Linked DNA regions of Homo sapiens: regions 1 and 2 are each linked to region 3. Evidence: fine-mapped expression QTL. A gene starts in region 3. Each other region holds a variant in brackets. All regions are shown on one strand. Distances are from middle to middle. Region 1 holds the start of LOC105376299 (a long non-coding RNA gene). Region 2 has its middle 4.8 kb from the start of PRRT1B. Region 3 holds the start of POMT1 (protein O-mannosyltransferase 1).

The links. PIP is the estimated chance that this variant, and not a neighbour inherited with it, causes the effect.
Region 1: its variant is fine-mapped to the expression of POMT1 in whole blood (INTERVAL, PIP 0.98).
Region 2: its variant is fine-mapped to the expression of POMT1 in whole blood (TOPMed, PIP above 0.99).

What each region holds. Positions count from the first base shown.
Region 1 is chr9:131,323,495-131,328,717 of GRCh38, forward strand. It overlaps LOC105376299 (a long non-coding RNA gene), which reads left to right and starts at 1,376. Exons shown (of 4, transcript XR_001746959.3): 1 at 1,376-2,145. The variant C/T (reference allele first, on the strand shown) is at 2,937.
Region 2 is chr9:131,538,095-131,543,317 of GRCh38, forward strand. No RefSeq gene overlaps it. Among named protein-coding and RNA genes, the nearest start is that of PRRT1B, 4.8 kb to the right of the region's middle. The variant A/G (reference allele first, on the strand shown) is at 2,137.
Region 3 is chr9:131,499,823-131,505,045 of GRCh38, forward strand. POMT1 (protein O-mannosyltransferase 1) reads left to right here and starts at 3,096. Exons shown (of 20, transcript NM_001077365.2): 1 at 3,096-3,251; 2 at 4,367-4,518. The coding sequence starts at 4,397. PRRC2B (proline rich coiled-coil 2B) reads left to right here. Exons shown (of 32, transcript NM_013318.4): 32 at 1-371. It also overlaps the pseudogene LOC124902290. RefSeq lists enhancers at 194-1,393, 2,882-3,749, 3,750-4,615, 3,987-4,046, 4,527-4,606 and 1 more and silencers at 2,997-3,196, 3,267-3,416.

The DNA.
Region 1 (5,223 bases), 180 kb before region 3:
CAGAGACAGGGCCTTTAAGGAGTTTATGACGTTAAAACGAGGCTGTCAGGGTGGGCCCTGATCCAATCTGACTGGTGTCCTTCTAAGTAGAGGAAACTTGGTCACACAAAGAGACACCAGGGATGCACAAGCACAGGGGAAATGGCTTGTGAGGACACGGCGAGAAGGCAGCCATCTGCAAGCCACGGAGAGAGGCCTCAGGTGAAACCAAACCTGCTGAACTTTGATCTTGGACTTCCAACCTCCAGAGCTGTGAGAAAATAAAATTTCTGTTGTGTGAGCCACACAGTCTATGGGATTGTATTATGACAGCCCTGGGAAACGAAACACTCCTCTCAGCTTGTTCACCATCTGATGTGTTCCCTGCGCATGCCCAGCCCCACAGTCCGCCCTTCCTTTGTCAGGGATCTGAGGTGTGCAGAGCCCCACACCTGTGCCGGTCAGCAGCTGCCATGTAGATAGTGGGACCCTGATGCTGCACAGAAGGTCCCTGGAAGCAGGTGGCCCCTCTCAGGATGCGTAGAATACAGCAAAGGCTTTAATTATTTTTTTTAAATACAGAAGCTCAGGTCCCACCTGAAGAGGTTTGGGTGTAATTGGTGTGGGGCGTGGGCTCCTCACGGGGATTGTTTTCCAAGCTTCCCAGGTGATTTCAGTACAGCCAAAGTTAAGAATCGATCCTGGAGCCGGGCACGGTGCCTCATGCCTGTAATCCCCGCACTTTGGGAGGCTGAGGAGGGTGGATCACGAGGTCAGGAGATCGAGATCATCCTGGCTAACACGGTGAAACCCCGTCTCTACTAAAAGTACAAAAAAATTAGCCGGGCGTGGTGGCGGGTGCCTGTAGTCCCAGCTACTCGGGAGGCTGAGGCAGGAGAATGGCATGAACCCGGGAGGCGAAGCTTGCAGTGAGCCGTGATCCTACCACTGTACTCCAGCCTGGGCAACAGAGCGAGACTCCGTCTCAAAAAAAAAAAAAAAAAGAATCAATCCTGGGCCAGGTAAGCCAGCTCACACCTATGATCCCAGCACTTTAGGGGGCCAAAGCCGGAGGGTCCCTTGAGTCCAGGAGTTCAAGACCAGCCTGGGAAATATAATTAGACTCATAGCAAGATCATGCAGCTGCAGTCAGCCATGATGGTGCCACTGCACCCCAGCATGAGCAACATGGCAAGACCCCATTTCTACTAAAAATCAAAACATAGCCCAGCATGGCGGCATGCACCTACAGTCCCAGCTACTCAGGAGGCTGAGGTAGGAGGATTGCTTGAACCCAGGAAGTTGAGGCTGCAGTGAGCCATGAATGCACCACTGCACTCCAGCCTGGGTGACAGAGCAAGACTCTGTCTCAAAAAAACAAAAAACAAGAATCAACCTAACCTCCAGGCCCCTCAGGTGGAAAGGCCAAGGGAATCCATCCAGGTATAGCCCAAGGCTCTGAGTCCGGGAAAGGATGGGGTAGTTTGTAGGGCAAAGGTCCTTCTGCCTCTGACCTGGTTCCTGGATAGCTTTGCCAAGAGGGGCCAGGTCAGGTCTCTCACGGGAGGGATCAGCAGCCCCTCACTCTTCAATGATCACATTCAAAATCTACGTGGGGGGTTGTGTTGAGATCTCAAAGGGGAGAAGGAGGAAGCCTCCATGCACTCCAGGGGGAACGGAGACCCTCAACCTTGTTCCATCTCCCCTTCCTTCCTGCCCCAAACCCAAGCAGCTGCAACATTCCACTCCACGCCCAGCAGGCACGGGGTCCGGCTAGGATTCTGTTTCTTGGGAGAGACGGGCCACGGGACTGCGTCCTGGTTTTCAGGGGCCTGGGGCGCCTGACTCTACCACCCGCGCTGTGGAGGCCGAGGCAAGGCTCGCCTGCAGATATGGGCTTGTGTTTGTTCTGTTCCTGGAAGACATGCGCTGCCACCGAGTCACTGGGCTTTTGACTCAGCTGTGTTTCCTCCTGCAGATGAACCCAAACCCAGGCTTTGGAGTCAGCAGAGCCAGCTGGGGCATCAGCCTCCCACTGGCGTCTGTGTGACTTTGGGCAATTCTCTTGACCTCTCTGAGCTTCGGTTTTCGGTCTCTCTGAAATGGGAGGAACCAACTAGACCAGCGTCTCAATCCCTGGACTCAAGCCTTGGACATCTCAAGTGGGTGAGTCCTTTCCCTTTTTGGCTGCAGAGTTGGAGCTGGGCTTCGGTTACTTGTAACCAGCACAGCTGAGTGCAGGTGGGTTGCTCTCTGCAAATGGCTGTGGAAATGAAGTGTATGAGCTTTAACCAGGGTGGGACTCAGAGGGCTCATGGGGTAACGGGCTGTTCCCCACTCCACACCCAGGAAAGGGGAAAGCCCAGTGGCCCCTTGCATTCTGGCTTCAAGTCCCTGCACAAAGCACAGTAAGAATAGCTCCCACTGATGGGAGCCCACTAGGCCATTGTTGACACTTCCCCGAACTCTCCAAGTGGGCTGTTATCATCTCGGCTCGCTAAGCAGAGTCAGGAGGTGGCTGAGCTGCAATTCTTGCTAAGAGACCACAGAGGTCCAGAAGTGGATTAATCATAATCTTTGGGTCATCACAACTCTCATTAATGAGCCATGCTGCTTTAGGTGTTTGCTTTTAAGATGGTTTTTTTGGCTCACGCCTGTAATCCCAGCACTTTGGGAGGCCGAGGTGGGTGGATCATGAGGTCAGGAGATCAAGACCAAGGTGAAACCCCGTCTCTACTAAAAATACAAAAAATTAGCTGGGTGTGGTGGCGGGCGCCTGTAGTCCCAGCTACTCGGGAGGCTGAGGCAGGAGAATGGCGTGAACCCGGGAGGCGGAGCTTGCAGTGAGCCGAGATTGCGCCACTGCACTCCAGCCTGGGCAACAGAGTGAGACTCCGTCTCAAAAAAAAAAAAAAAAAAGATGGTTTTTTGTGCTTTTTTTTTTTAAGAGATGAGGT[C/T]TCCCCCTGTCACCCCTGCTGGAGTGCAGTGACACGATCCTAGTTCACTGCAATCTCAAACTCCTGGGCTCAAGCAATCCCCTGACCTCAGCCTCCCGAGAAGCTACATTGAGTCTCTAGATCAGTTTATGAAGAACTGACATCTCTGTAATATCAGGCTTTCCTGTCCTTAAGAATGGGTTATCTCGGCCGGGCGTGGTGGCTCATGCCTGTAATCCCAGCACTTTGGGAGGCCGAGGTGGGTGGATCACGAGGTCAGGAGTTCAAGACCAGCCTGGTCAAGATGGTGAAACCTCGTCTCTACTAAAAATACAAAAAAATTAGCCAGCCGTGGTGGCAGGCGTCTGTAATCCCAGCTACTCAGGAGGCTGAGGCAGAGAATTGCTTGAACCCAGGAGGTGGAGGTATAATTGCCTGCCTAATTCTTGCCTACGTTTCATTATACTTATTCTTAGGTACTTATTATAATTTTCATACTCTTGTGAACATTATCCTTTTTTTTTCAAGGATATTTTCCAATTGTTTCTTCCTGGTATACAGAAATGAAATTAGTTTTTGTATATTTTTCTTATATCTAGGTATCTTGCCAAACTCTCCCTCTGGGGTTCCATATAGCTGGTAGTATCTGAAAATAATGTGTTTTATTTTCTCTTTCCCAATCCTTATGTTTCGAATTTATTTTTTCTAGTCTTAATGTTAGAGTGGAAGCTCCAATACTCTGTTGAACAGAAGTGATAATAGCAAACAGAACATTCTTGTTTCCAGTCTCAGAAGGAATGCTGCTAATGTTTATCCTCCCATTTCCGACTTGCCAAGAGGCTTAATCACAAATTTATGTGAACTTCTAAAAATACTTCCTCAGCATCTATTAAAATGATCCTGTAGTTTTTCCTCCTTTCATCAGTTAATACGATAAGTAACACTGATAGACTTTTCTTTTTTTTTTTTTTTGAGACGGAGTCTTGCTCTGTCACCCAGGCTGGAGTGCAGTTGCACCATCACAGCCCACTGCAGCCTCAAACTCCTTGACTCAAATGTTCCTCCCACTTCAGCCTCCCAGGTAGCTAGGGTTACACGAGCATGCCACCATTCCAGGCTAATTTTTTTTTTTTCATTTTTTTAGAGACAGGAGTTTCACTGTGTTGCCCAGGCTGGTCTCAAACTCCTGGCCTCAAGCAGACCTCCCACCTCAGCATCCCAAAGTGCTGGGATTACTTGGTGTGAACCACCATGCCTGGCCCCACCCTTTCTATTATTGATAATGCTTTTAAAGTATAAGACAACTTTGCCTCATATCAAAATATATCTTTATATCTTTTTATATATATATATAATAGATAGATAGATAGATAGATAGATAGATAGATAGATAGGCTAGGCGTGGTAACTCACGCCTGTAATCCCAGCATTTTGGGAGGTTAAACGGGCAGATCACTTAAACTCAGGAGTTGGAGAGCAGCCTGGGCAACATGGTGAAACTATGTCTCTGAAAATTATTTTTAACCTTTTTGGATCCTTAAATTTTTGGTGAGCTCTCTTTTTGTGTGTGTGCAGATCTCTTTTAAGCTTCATCAATCTGGAATTTTTTTTTCCTACCCAGTCTCTGAATCTCTTACTTATTGATTTACAGACAGGGTCTCAGTCTGCCACCCAGGCTGGAGTGCGATGGTGCAATCACAGCTCACTGCAGCCTCCACCTCCCACTTCAGTCCCCTCTGTGCCTGGGACGACAGGCATGCACCACCATGCCTGGCTAATTTTTGGGTTTTTTGTTTGTTTTGTTTTGTTTGAGACAGGGTCTAGTTCTGCCACTCAGGCTGGAGTGCAGTGGCGTGACACAGCTCACTACAACTTCTGCCTCCTGGGCTCAAGCAATCCTCCCATCTTGCCTCCCGCGTAGCTGGGACTACAGGCATGCGCCACCACACCCAGCTAACTTTTGCAATTTTTGTAGAGACAGCGTTTTGCCATGTTGCCCAGGCTGGTCTCGAACTTGTGAGCTCAAGCAATTCACCCGCCTCAGCCTCCCAAAGTGCTGGGATTACAGGCATGAGCCCCCATGCCCAACCAGTTTTTTGGTTTTTGTTTTGAGACAAGGTCTAGTTCTGTCACTTAGGCTGGAGTGCAGTGGCATGACACAGCTCACTGCAATTTCTGCCTCCTGGGCTCAAGCAATCCTCCCGTCTTGCCTCCCACGTAGCTGGGACTACAGGCATGCACCACCACACCCAGCTAATTTTTGCAATTTTTGTAGAGACGGCATTTTGCCATGTTGCCCAGGCTGGTC
Region 2 (5,223 bases), 38 kb after region 3:
ACGCATGTGTGCGTCTGTGTCTGTGTATGAACAGAGAGCATACAAATACCAAGCAAAGAGTGCAAAATGTGAGCCGCTGAGGGGTCTGTGCAAGGGCTACGGGGCGATGATGAGTCCGCTCCTGCCGCCGTCACAAAGTGCTACGGGCCGAGTGGCTTTGACAACAGAAATCTGTTTCCTCAGGGGCCGGGCACGGTGGCTCACGCCTGTAATCCCAGCAGTTTGGGAGGCCGAGGTGGGCGGATCATGAGGTCAGGAGATAGAGACCATCCTGGCTAACACGGTGAAAACCCGTCTCTACTAAAAATATAAAAAATTAGCCGGGCGTGGTGGTGGGCGCCTGTAGTCCCAGCTACTCGGGAGGCTGAGGCAGGAGAATGGTGTGAACCCGGGAGGTGGAGCTTGCAGTGAGCCGAGATCGCGCCACTGCACTCCAGCCTGGGTGACAGAGTGAGACTCCGTCTCAAAAAAGAAATGTATTTCCTCCCTGTTCTGCAGGTTAGAAGTCCAACGTCAAGGTGCAGGGTTGGTTTCCACGGAAGACGGCTGCTCCTCCCTCACTGACTCTTCATGCGGTTGTCACTGTGTCCGCACACCCCTGGGGTCTCTTCCCTCTTCAGCTTTTTTTTTTTTTTTTGAGACGGGGTCTCGCTCTGCCGCCAAGGCTAGAATGCAATGGCGTGATCTCGGCTCACTGCAACCTCCGCCTCCCAGGTTCAAGCGATTCTTCTGCCTCAGCCTCCCGAATAGCTGGGATTACAGGCACCCGCCATCACGCCCGGGGTTTCACCATGTTGGCCAGGCTGGTCTTGAACTCCTGACCTCAGGTGATCCGCCCGCCTCGGCCTCCCAAAGTGCTGGGATTACAGGCATGAGCCACTGTGCCCAGCCCCTTCCTCTTGTTTTTTTTTTTTTTTTTTTTTTTTTGAGACGGAGTCTTGCTCTGTCACCCAGGCTGGAGTGCAGTGGCACAATCTCGGCTCACTGCAACCCCTGCCACCTGGGTTCAAGCGATTCTCCTGCCTCAGCCTCCCGAGTAGCTGGGATTACAGGTGTGCACCACCACGCCTGGCTAATTTTTCTATTTTTAGTAGAGACAGGGTTTCGCTATGTTGCTCAGGTTGGTCTCAAACTCCTGACCTCAGGTAATCTGCCTGCCTCAGCCTCCCAAAGTGTTGGGATTACAGGCGTGAGCCACCGCGCCTGGCCTCTTCCTCTTCTTATAAGGACACCAGTCCTATTCAATTAGGATCCACGCTTATGAGCTCACTTAGCTTTCATCACCTCTGCAGAGGCTCTGTCTCCAAATACAGTCACACACTGAGGCACTGGGGGTTAGGACTTCAACATACGAACATGGCAGGGGACACAATATAGCCCATAACACACCAGGTGACATGGCTCTTCTTTCTACTATTCTTGCAACTTTTTCTATGAGTTTGAAATAATTAATAGAAGCCATTTGAGGAGAAAGCAAAGCAAAAAAACATTAAAGTTGTAGATTTTCATTTTATTTCTATATTTATTTTATGTTTTTAGAGACAGGATCTTGCCCTGTCACCCAGGCTGGAGTGCAGTGGCACGATCATAGCTCATTGCTAACCTCAATTTCCTGGGCTCAAGTGATCCTCCTGCCTCAGCTTCCTGAGTATCTGAGACCGCAGGTGGGTGCCACCACACCTGGCTCATTTTTAAATTTACTTTAGAGAAAGGGCCTTTCTATGTTGCCCAGGCTGGTCTTGAACTCCTGGCCTCAAGCAATCCTCCTGCCTCAGCCTCCCAAGTTGCTGGGATTAAAAATGTTAGCCACTGTGTCTGGCAAAAATTGTAGACTTTTTTAAAGAACCAAGTGAAAATTCTAATCATAAAAAATAAAGACATCAAAATGTTTTGTAGGGGCCTGTTGCAGTGGCTCATGCCTGTAATCCCAGGACTTTAGGAGGCTAGGCAGGCGGATCACTTGGGGCCAGGAGTTAAAGAGTAGGCTGGCCAGCCAGGCACTCATGCTTATAATCCCAGCACTTTGGGAGTCTGAGGCAGGCGGATCATCTGAGGTCAGGATTTCGAGACCAGCCTGGCCAACATGGCAAAACTCCATCTCTACAAAAAATACAATAATTAGCCAGGTGTGGTGGC[A/G]GACACCTGTAATCCCAGCTACTCGGGAGGCTGATGCAGGAGAATTGCTTGAACCCAGGAGGCAGAGGTTGCAGTGAGCTTAGATCATGCCACTGTATTCCAGCCTGGGTGACACAGCTAGACTCTGTCTCAATAAAAAAAAAAAAAAACATCTTTTGTAGAGGCTGGATGCAATAGCTCATACCTGTAATCCCAGCACTTTGAGTAGCCAAGGTGGGTGGATCACTGCAGCCCAGGAGTCAAGACCAGCCTGGGTAACATAGGCACCAAGCCCATCTCTAGTTATTCCTGGTGGTGCTCACCTTGACCACCTGGCTCCAGTGCCGTCGGCCAGGATTCTTGGCTGTAAACTCTCGGATTCACACGAGTGCTGAATTCTGCACATGTGTGGTCCTGAAAGTGAGTAACCCTTACATTTTGCATCTCAGGACCTCACTGGCCTCACCATAGCCCTAGTCATGCTCTTTTCTATTTGTTCTATCTGTGCTTGAATTGATGTTTCCTCTTTTTCTAATTCCTCATGGGTTAATTGAAAATTGTTTATGGTTCCATTTATCTCCTCTATTACATTATTGTTGAGATCTTTTCAATAAAAATCTAGTGATTGCCCTAGGGTTTATGACATATGTATTTAATTAATCTGTTTATCTTCAAATAATGTTATATTGCTGGTGCATAGTGTAATAGCTTTACAGCAGTGCAGCGCCAACCCCTCCCATCACTTGTTCTATTGTGTCACATAATTAATGAATTAATTAATTTTTTGAACAGGGTCCCACTCTGTCTCCCAGGCTGGAATGCAGTGGCTCAATGCGATCTCAGCTCACTGCAGCCTCTGCCTCCCATGCTCAGGTGATCCTCCTACCTCAGCCTCCTAAGTAGCTGGGACTATAGGCACACACCACCATGCCCAGCTAGTTTTTGTATTTTTTGTAGAGACAGGGTTTTGCCATGTTGCCCAGACTGGTCTTGAACTCCTGAGTTCAAGGAATCCACCCGCCTCCGCCTCCCAAAGTGTTGGGATTACAGGCATGAGCCACTGTGCCTAGCCTGATTTATTTTTTAGTATGCTATAAACACAAATAAATTCCTACTATTTTTGCTTTAGCGTTTTTTTGTTTTCCTTTTTTTTTTTTTGAGATGGAGTTTTGCTCTGTCACCCAGGCTGGAGTACAGTGGCATGATCTCAGCTCACTGCAACCTCTGCCTCCTGGGTTTGAGCAATTCTCCTGCCTCAGCCTCCCAAGTAGCTGGGATTACAGGCACCCACCACCATGCCTGTATTTTATTTATTTATTTATTTTTAGAAGAGATGGGGTTTCACCATGTTGGCCAGGCTGGTTTTGAACTCCCAACCTCAAGTGATCTGCTTACCTTGAGCTCCCAAAGTGCTGCAGTTACAGGCATGAGCCACGCACCTGGCCTTTGCTTTAGTTTTTTTATTTCTTCTGCCTGAATGAACTTCCTCTGTTGTTTTTGTTTGTTTTGGATGAGAAATTATTTTTCTTTTTTTTTTTTTTTTTTTGATATGGAGTCTCGCTCTGTCGCCCAGGCTGGAGTGCAGTGGCACAATCTCGGCTCACTGCAAGCTCCACCTCCCGGGTTCACGCCATTCTCCTGCCTCAGCCTCCCGAGTAGCTGGGACCATAGGCACCCGCCACCACACCCGGCTAATTTTTTGTATTTTTAGTAGAGACGGGGTTTCACCGTGTTAGCCAGGATGGTCTTGATCTCTTGACCTCGTGATCCGCCCACCTCTGCCTCCCAAACTGCTGGGATTACAGGCGTGAGCCACCGCACCCGGCCTATTTTTCTTTTTAAAAAAGAATTGTAATAGACTTTATCTTTTTAGAGCAGTTTTAGGTTCACAGAAAAATTGAACTGAAGGTGCAAAGATTTTCCCATATACTCCCTACCCTCACATTCACAGTCTCCCTCATTTTCAACACCCCACACCAGAGTGGTACATTTGTTGCAATCAGTGAACCTATATGGACACACCATTATCACCAGTGTCCATCGCTACATTAGAGCTCACTCTTGCTGTACATTCTATGCATTTGGAAAAATTTATAATAACATGTATTCACCATGATATTATTATTGTTTTTGAGACGGAGTCTCACTCTGTTGCCCAGGCTGGAGTGTGGTGGCATGATCTCGTCTCACTGCAACCTCCACCTCCAGGATTCAAGCAATTCTCCTGCCTCAGCCTCCTAAGTAGCTGGAATTACAGGCACCTGCCACCACGTCTGGCTAATTTTTGTATTTTTGGTAGAGATGGGGTTTTGCCATGTTGACCAGGCTGGTCTCAAACTCCTGACCTCAAATGATCCGCCCACCTCGGCCTCCCAAAGTGCTGGGATTACAGGTATGAGCCACTGCACCCAGCCTATAGTATTATACAGAGTAGTTTCACTGCCCTAAAAATCCTTTCTGCTATTCATCTCTTCCTCTCCCTAACCACTGTTCACCATTGATCTTCCATAGTTTTCCTTTTTCCAGAACATCATCTAGTTGAAATCATACAATATGTAGCCTTTTCAGATTGGCTTCTTTCACTTAGCAATATTCATTTAAGGTCCTTTCATGTCTTTTCATGGCTTGATATTGCAAATTTAAAATGTTTTTGTTTTATTTTTAAAGAGGTTTTTTTTTTTGAGACGGAGTCTTGCTGTCGCCCAGGCTGGAGTGCAGTGGCGCGATCTCGGCTCACTGCAGGCTCCACCCCCAGGGGATCACGCCATTCTCCTGCCTCAGCCTCCCGCATAGCTGGGATTACAGGCGCCCGCCACCTCGCCTGGCTAATTTTTTGTATTTTTAGTAGAGATGGGGTTTCACCGTGTTAGCCAGGATGGTCTCGATCTCCTGACCTCATGATCCACCCGCCTCGGCCTCCCAAAGTGCTGGGATTACAGGCGTGAGCCACCGCACCCGGCCTAAAGAGGTTTTTTTAAATCTTGTTTTTTAATGAATTTTTACTGGGTATAGAATTCTGAGTTGACAGTTTTTTTTTTGTTTTTGTTTTTTCGTCAGTTCAAATACATCACTCATTGTATTCTGGCTAGCATAGTTTCAAACGAGATG
Region 3 (5,223 bases):
TTGACCTCATGCCTTGTGTAGTAAAAAAGGATTTGGGGGTTTTGTTTGGTTCCTGAGAGGGTTGTGTTTTGTTTTTGTTTCCTTTTGTTTATGTTTTGGCCTTTCCTCTTTGTCTTTCCATGTAGACCAGATATTTGAAAGGGCAGACGATGGCTAGAGGTGTAATGTGCAGCTTGTTTATACGGTATTTTGGGAAACTTACCTTGGATGGGAAATCGAATCGTGGATTCACCAGGCCGGTGCTGGCACACTCACCCTCGCCCTTTCCCTCCGGTTCAGTACCTATTGTTTCTCCTTTCAAATATGTGATTGTACTAGCTCTTTCCATATGAAAGAATTCTCCTTATTTAAATAAAAAAAGTTTAAAAAGATAAAGCTGAACGTGCTTTCTCAGGTTGTACATCCCTCGTTTCTTGGTCATTTGACCAGAGAGACCTACAGATCAAAGAATTCTAATTTTACAGAGTTCACACGGAAATTAGGAGTGGCACGGCTGAAATGCCTTAACAGAAGCTGTGTGGGTAGAGAAGGGATTGAAACCCGTGGCTAAGAAGCATCTTCCAAATGCGGCAGCATCAAGCACTCCACCCTCTTCCCACGGATGGCATCTGGTTGTGCACAGTGCCTGCCTGTGGCCCCGTCACTTGCCGTGAGAAACGAGCTGGTCAGAGGAGGTAAGCATTTGATGTGGCGTGTTGTGTTGTCACTTCTAGCGGTGCTTTTGCAGGAAGTGGAGGAGGATTATGCTGTGCTTTGGGGTGGGGAGGGAGCAAGCCAGGCCTGGGGTAGCGAAGGGTAAAAGGTAAGAATGGGCTGAGGCAGCAGTTCTCGGTTTTGCCATTGCCTCACTGACCTGGGGAAAGACGTTTCACCACCTGAGTCAGTCTCCTTAATCATAAAACACAGATTGTAATGGTATCGACCTCATGGCGTAGTGTGGATTCAAAGTCACCAGTAGCTTTTAGCTTAGTGCCTAGAACCAGCTAAGAAAACTTATAAATTACCCCCAAGAAATAAAACGCTGTTTCCATGAGGAACCCCAGTCCCTCAACTTCCTTCTAAGCCTTTTGACTATGGAAGAGAGTTGGGGACCTGGCCATGGGCATCTCAGCTTTAACTAGCCACACTCACTGCCCTGATTTACTGCTCCCTAGGGACAGGTGGCTCACAAAATCTCAAACGGAGACCAGCCCTGAAAGAGGCTAGTCCTAAGGTTGGGGGCTTGCAAGATGGAGGCTGTAAGTCCTGAGGCACCACCACTGTTAGCATGGCATGAACCAAAGCTTAACAGCCCAGCCCCACTCCCTCCTGGGGCCCAGGGAACCCTCCCTGCCCACTGTAAATACAGTTGCCTGCAGGCTCTGGCCACAAACCCAGGTGAGCCCCAGCTCCTTGCCTCTCTGTGGGATCTTGGGTGAGTCACATAACCCCTCAAGGGTAAGCCATAAAGAAGTAACCACGAAATTCTAACTGGTGTCATCTAATGCTATGTTGCCCAACATGGAAAAAAAGTCTTGCAGGCAGCCAAGAACCATAATGAAGGTTATTAAACCTGCAGTGTGCCCTTTTGGTCTGTATAGATTAACATACAAATAGACCAGGAGATCAAGAAGGAGCGAGGCTGAGAAGAGTGATCCATCAGCCTGGTTGCGTTGCTGTCAGTTACCCTGCTCTGGGTGCCGACTGTTCAGGGAAAACATGGGAAGGGGTGCATTGACCCAACCAAAAGTACCATGTCTGCTCCAAAGCAGGCCTTTGGGAAGGCTCTTGACCCTCAGCAGAGGGGGCTGGAGAGGCTGATGGATGAGGAGGAGCCCTGGGAATGGAGGAAGAAGCCTCCAGTCTTCTGCCACGGAGTTTAGGGGAGATGCCCCCACTGGAGCCTCTGATGGTCATGCAGCCCCCACTGATGTCCAGGTTTTTTTGGTTTTGTTTTTTGTTTTGAGACGGTCTCACTTTGTAGTCCAGGCTGGAGTGCAGTGGTGAGACCAAGGCTCACTGCAGCCTCGACCTCTCTGCCCCAAGTGATCTCCTGCCTCAGCCTCCCTTGTAGCTGGGACTGCAGGCAGACGCCAAGGGGCCCCGCTAATTTTTGTATTTTTTTGTAGAGACGGGGTCTCGCTGTGTTGCCCAGGCTCTCCTGGACTCAAGCGGGCTCACGGATCCTCCCACCTCGGCCACCCAAAGTGCTGGGGTTACAGGCGTGAGCCACCGCCCCCGGCCCTAGGTCCGTTTTAAATGCCCTTACCCTCAGCCACTTCACCGCTAGATGTATGTGCAAGCAGGATCGTGGCATCGATGTTTTTCGGCAAGGAAACTAGGAGCGCCCGCGGGCGTGGGGGCACGTGCCTGTGGTCTCAGCTGCTCTGGAGGCCGAGGAGGGAGGATCGCTTCGGGCAGAGAGGTCGAGGCTGCAGCAAGCCGTGGTCCTGCCACTGTACTCCAGCCTGGGCGACAGAGCGAGACCCCGTGTCTTAAAAAAAAAATTAAGGTCGGACGCAGTGGCTCACGCCTGTAATCCCAGCACTTTGGGAGGCCGAGGTGGGCGGATCACTTCAGGTCAGGAGTTCGAGACCAGCCTGGCCAACATGGTGAAACCCTGTCTCTACTACAAATACAAAAATTAACCGGGCGTGGTGGCGTGCGCCTTCAATCTCAGCTACTCGGGAGGCTGAGGCAGGAGAATCGCTTGAACCCGGGAAGCGGAGGTTGCGGTGAGCCGAGATCGCGCCATTGCACTCCAGCCTGGGCAACAAGAGCGAAACTCCGTCTCAAAAAAAAAGAAAAGAAAAGAAAAGAAAAAAACTAGGAGCAAACTGGCGCGCCCGGCAGAACGCCGTTGTGCAGACGCAGAATTAAGATCTTCACGCCAGATGGAGTGAAAAAGCAAGGAGCAGAAGATGGGTGGGAGCCCACTGCGCTTTTTAAAATCTGCACGTCTGCTTAGAGTACACAGAAATCCTGGCACACAAAACAGTAGCACCCGAGAGAGGGGAGGTCGCCGCGTTTCACACCTGCCTCTCCTCCGGGACCGGCGCCCTCGCCCGCTGCGCACGCGCGTCACCCTCTCCCAGTGCGCACGCGCGCTGCTGCCCGTCTGGCCCCGCAGGCTCGGTGAATCGAACGTTGAGCAGGGCGGTGGGTGGTGCGGAGTGCCGAGCGGCCTCACCCCCAACCGTCGGCCCAGTCGGACGGTTCCGAGGCGTTGCCGGGAGCCGGGCGCGGCTCTGTGTGGACTCGGAGAAACGCGGGTACATTTGGGGACACCGGGGACGAGAGCCCAGCCCGGACTTGGGGGAGTCCGTCAGTGCCGGACGCGGGTCCCTGGCTTGCGGACGGGCTGGGGCCGGGGGCGTCCCCGTCTTTCCGGAGCTGGGGGCGGGGTTCGGGCCCGGGCAGATGCGGCGTTCGGGCGGCCGAGCCCCGAAGTAAGAACTCCGTGGCGCGTGCAGCCCTAGGGAGGAAGGGCGTGCTGCGGGTGCAGTCTCAGGGTGAGGACGGAGCTGGGGCCGACGCAGCCTCGGGAGTTGGTGGACGGGACAGGTGCGGCCTGTGGGGAAGAAGGGCCGGCCAGGGAGATGCGGTCTGCAAGGGGAGAGGAGGCACTCCCAGGACAGATGGGACCTTTTGGGACGAAGGCGCTCAAGGCAGATGCAGCTCAGGGAGGGAAGGGCGCGTCCAGGGTAGATGGGGCCTGAGGAGACCAGCGGGGCGCCAACGGCCAGATGCGGCTTTGGTGTGAGACAGGGTGTCCCAGGCCTGATGCAGCCTCAAGAGAAGCGGAGCTCAAGGGAAGATGAAGCCTGGAGGAGAACGTGGGGGCGCAGGGTGCAAATGCACCCTCCAGGCGAGAAAGGGAGCACCCGGGGATGATGTGCCGCTGGGATAGAAGGCAGGGAGGCACTGGGGGCAGATGCATCCTTGAGGAGAGATGAGGAGGCCCCGAGGCTCGGCCAGGTTGGGGTCCCTGGGCTGTAAGCAGCTGAGATGGCACCCAGGAGCTGCCCAGGGTCAGGTAGCTGTGGCCGCACTGTGGGCTTCTGGTCGTCGGGGAGGGAGGGGAGAAACCCTGGCGTTCCTTAGCAGTGTTCTCGCGCCCAAGACGTGCTCGGCAGGTTTTGTGGAATGAGTTGTTGAAAGGAGTGAATGTCCAGTCCTGAGATCCCCTGAATTCCCACCCGAGTTCACTGCTAGTGCCCCTCACCCCACATGTCTACCTGAACCAAGGCTCCAGGAACTTCGGTCTTTCTCAGCAGCCCGGCTGTGCTGTGGTTCTCCTCGTGTGTCCGGGAGCCGGGTGGCTGGGGATCCCTTCTGTAGCCTCTCGTGAGCCCTCATGGACCACGGCTCCTCCCTTCTTTTCTAGGGCGTCTGCCTGAGCCCGCTTTTCTACAAGATGTGGGGATTTTTGAAGCGCCCTGTAGTGGTGACGGCTGACATCAACTTGAGCCTTGTGGCCCTGACTGGGATGGGGTTACTGAGCCGGCTGTGGCGACTCACCTACCCGCGGGCTGTGGTGTAAGCTAAATGACTCCATTCCCAGGGTGAATCTAGAATTGTACTTTGTGACAGGAGGCGCCCTTACTGAATAGCATAAATGGGAGAGTGAAATCCTGGCTTCTTGGTGATAGGTGTTTTTGGCAGTGAGAGGAGAGACCAGTCTGTCCCCAGGACAGCCCCAGCAGAGTACACCTTTTAGGTCTTGCCTTCTGAGTCTGTAACAGGTGAAATTTGGCCCATTAAAGGGGTGCAGTAGAGGAAAATCTGGTTGCCAGCCTTAAGTAACAGTTTTAAAGTCTGGACGGCAGAGGATTAATGGATTTGGAAGTAAGTCTTCACTGTTGAGAGCACTTTTTAGAATGTGTTTTTGTCATAATGGGAAGTGATTGCTGTTATTATTGAAGGGCTCTTTATTAACTGATTAATGTGTGTATGTGTGTGTGTGTGTGTGTGTGTGTGTGTGTGTGTGTTTTTGAGACGGAGTCTTGCTGTGTCGCCCAGGTTGGAGTGCAGTGGTGCCATCTCGGCTCACTGCAACCTCTGCCTCCTGGGTTCAAGCAATTCTCTGCCTCAGCCTCCCGAGTAGCTGAGATTACAGGTGCCCGCCACCACACCCAGCTAATTTTTGTATTTTTAGTAGAGACGGGATTTCACCATCTTGGCCAGGCTGGTATTGAACTCCTGACCTCATGATCCACCCACCTGGGTCTCCCAAAGTGTTAG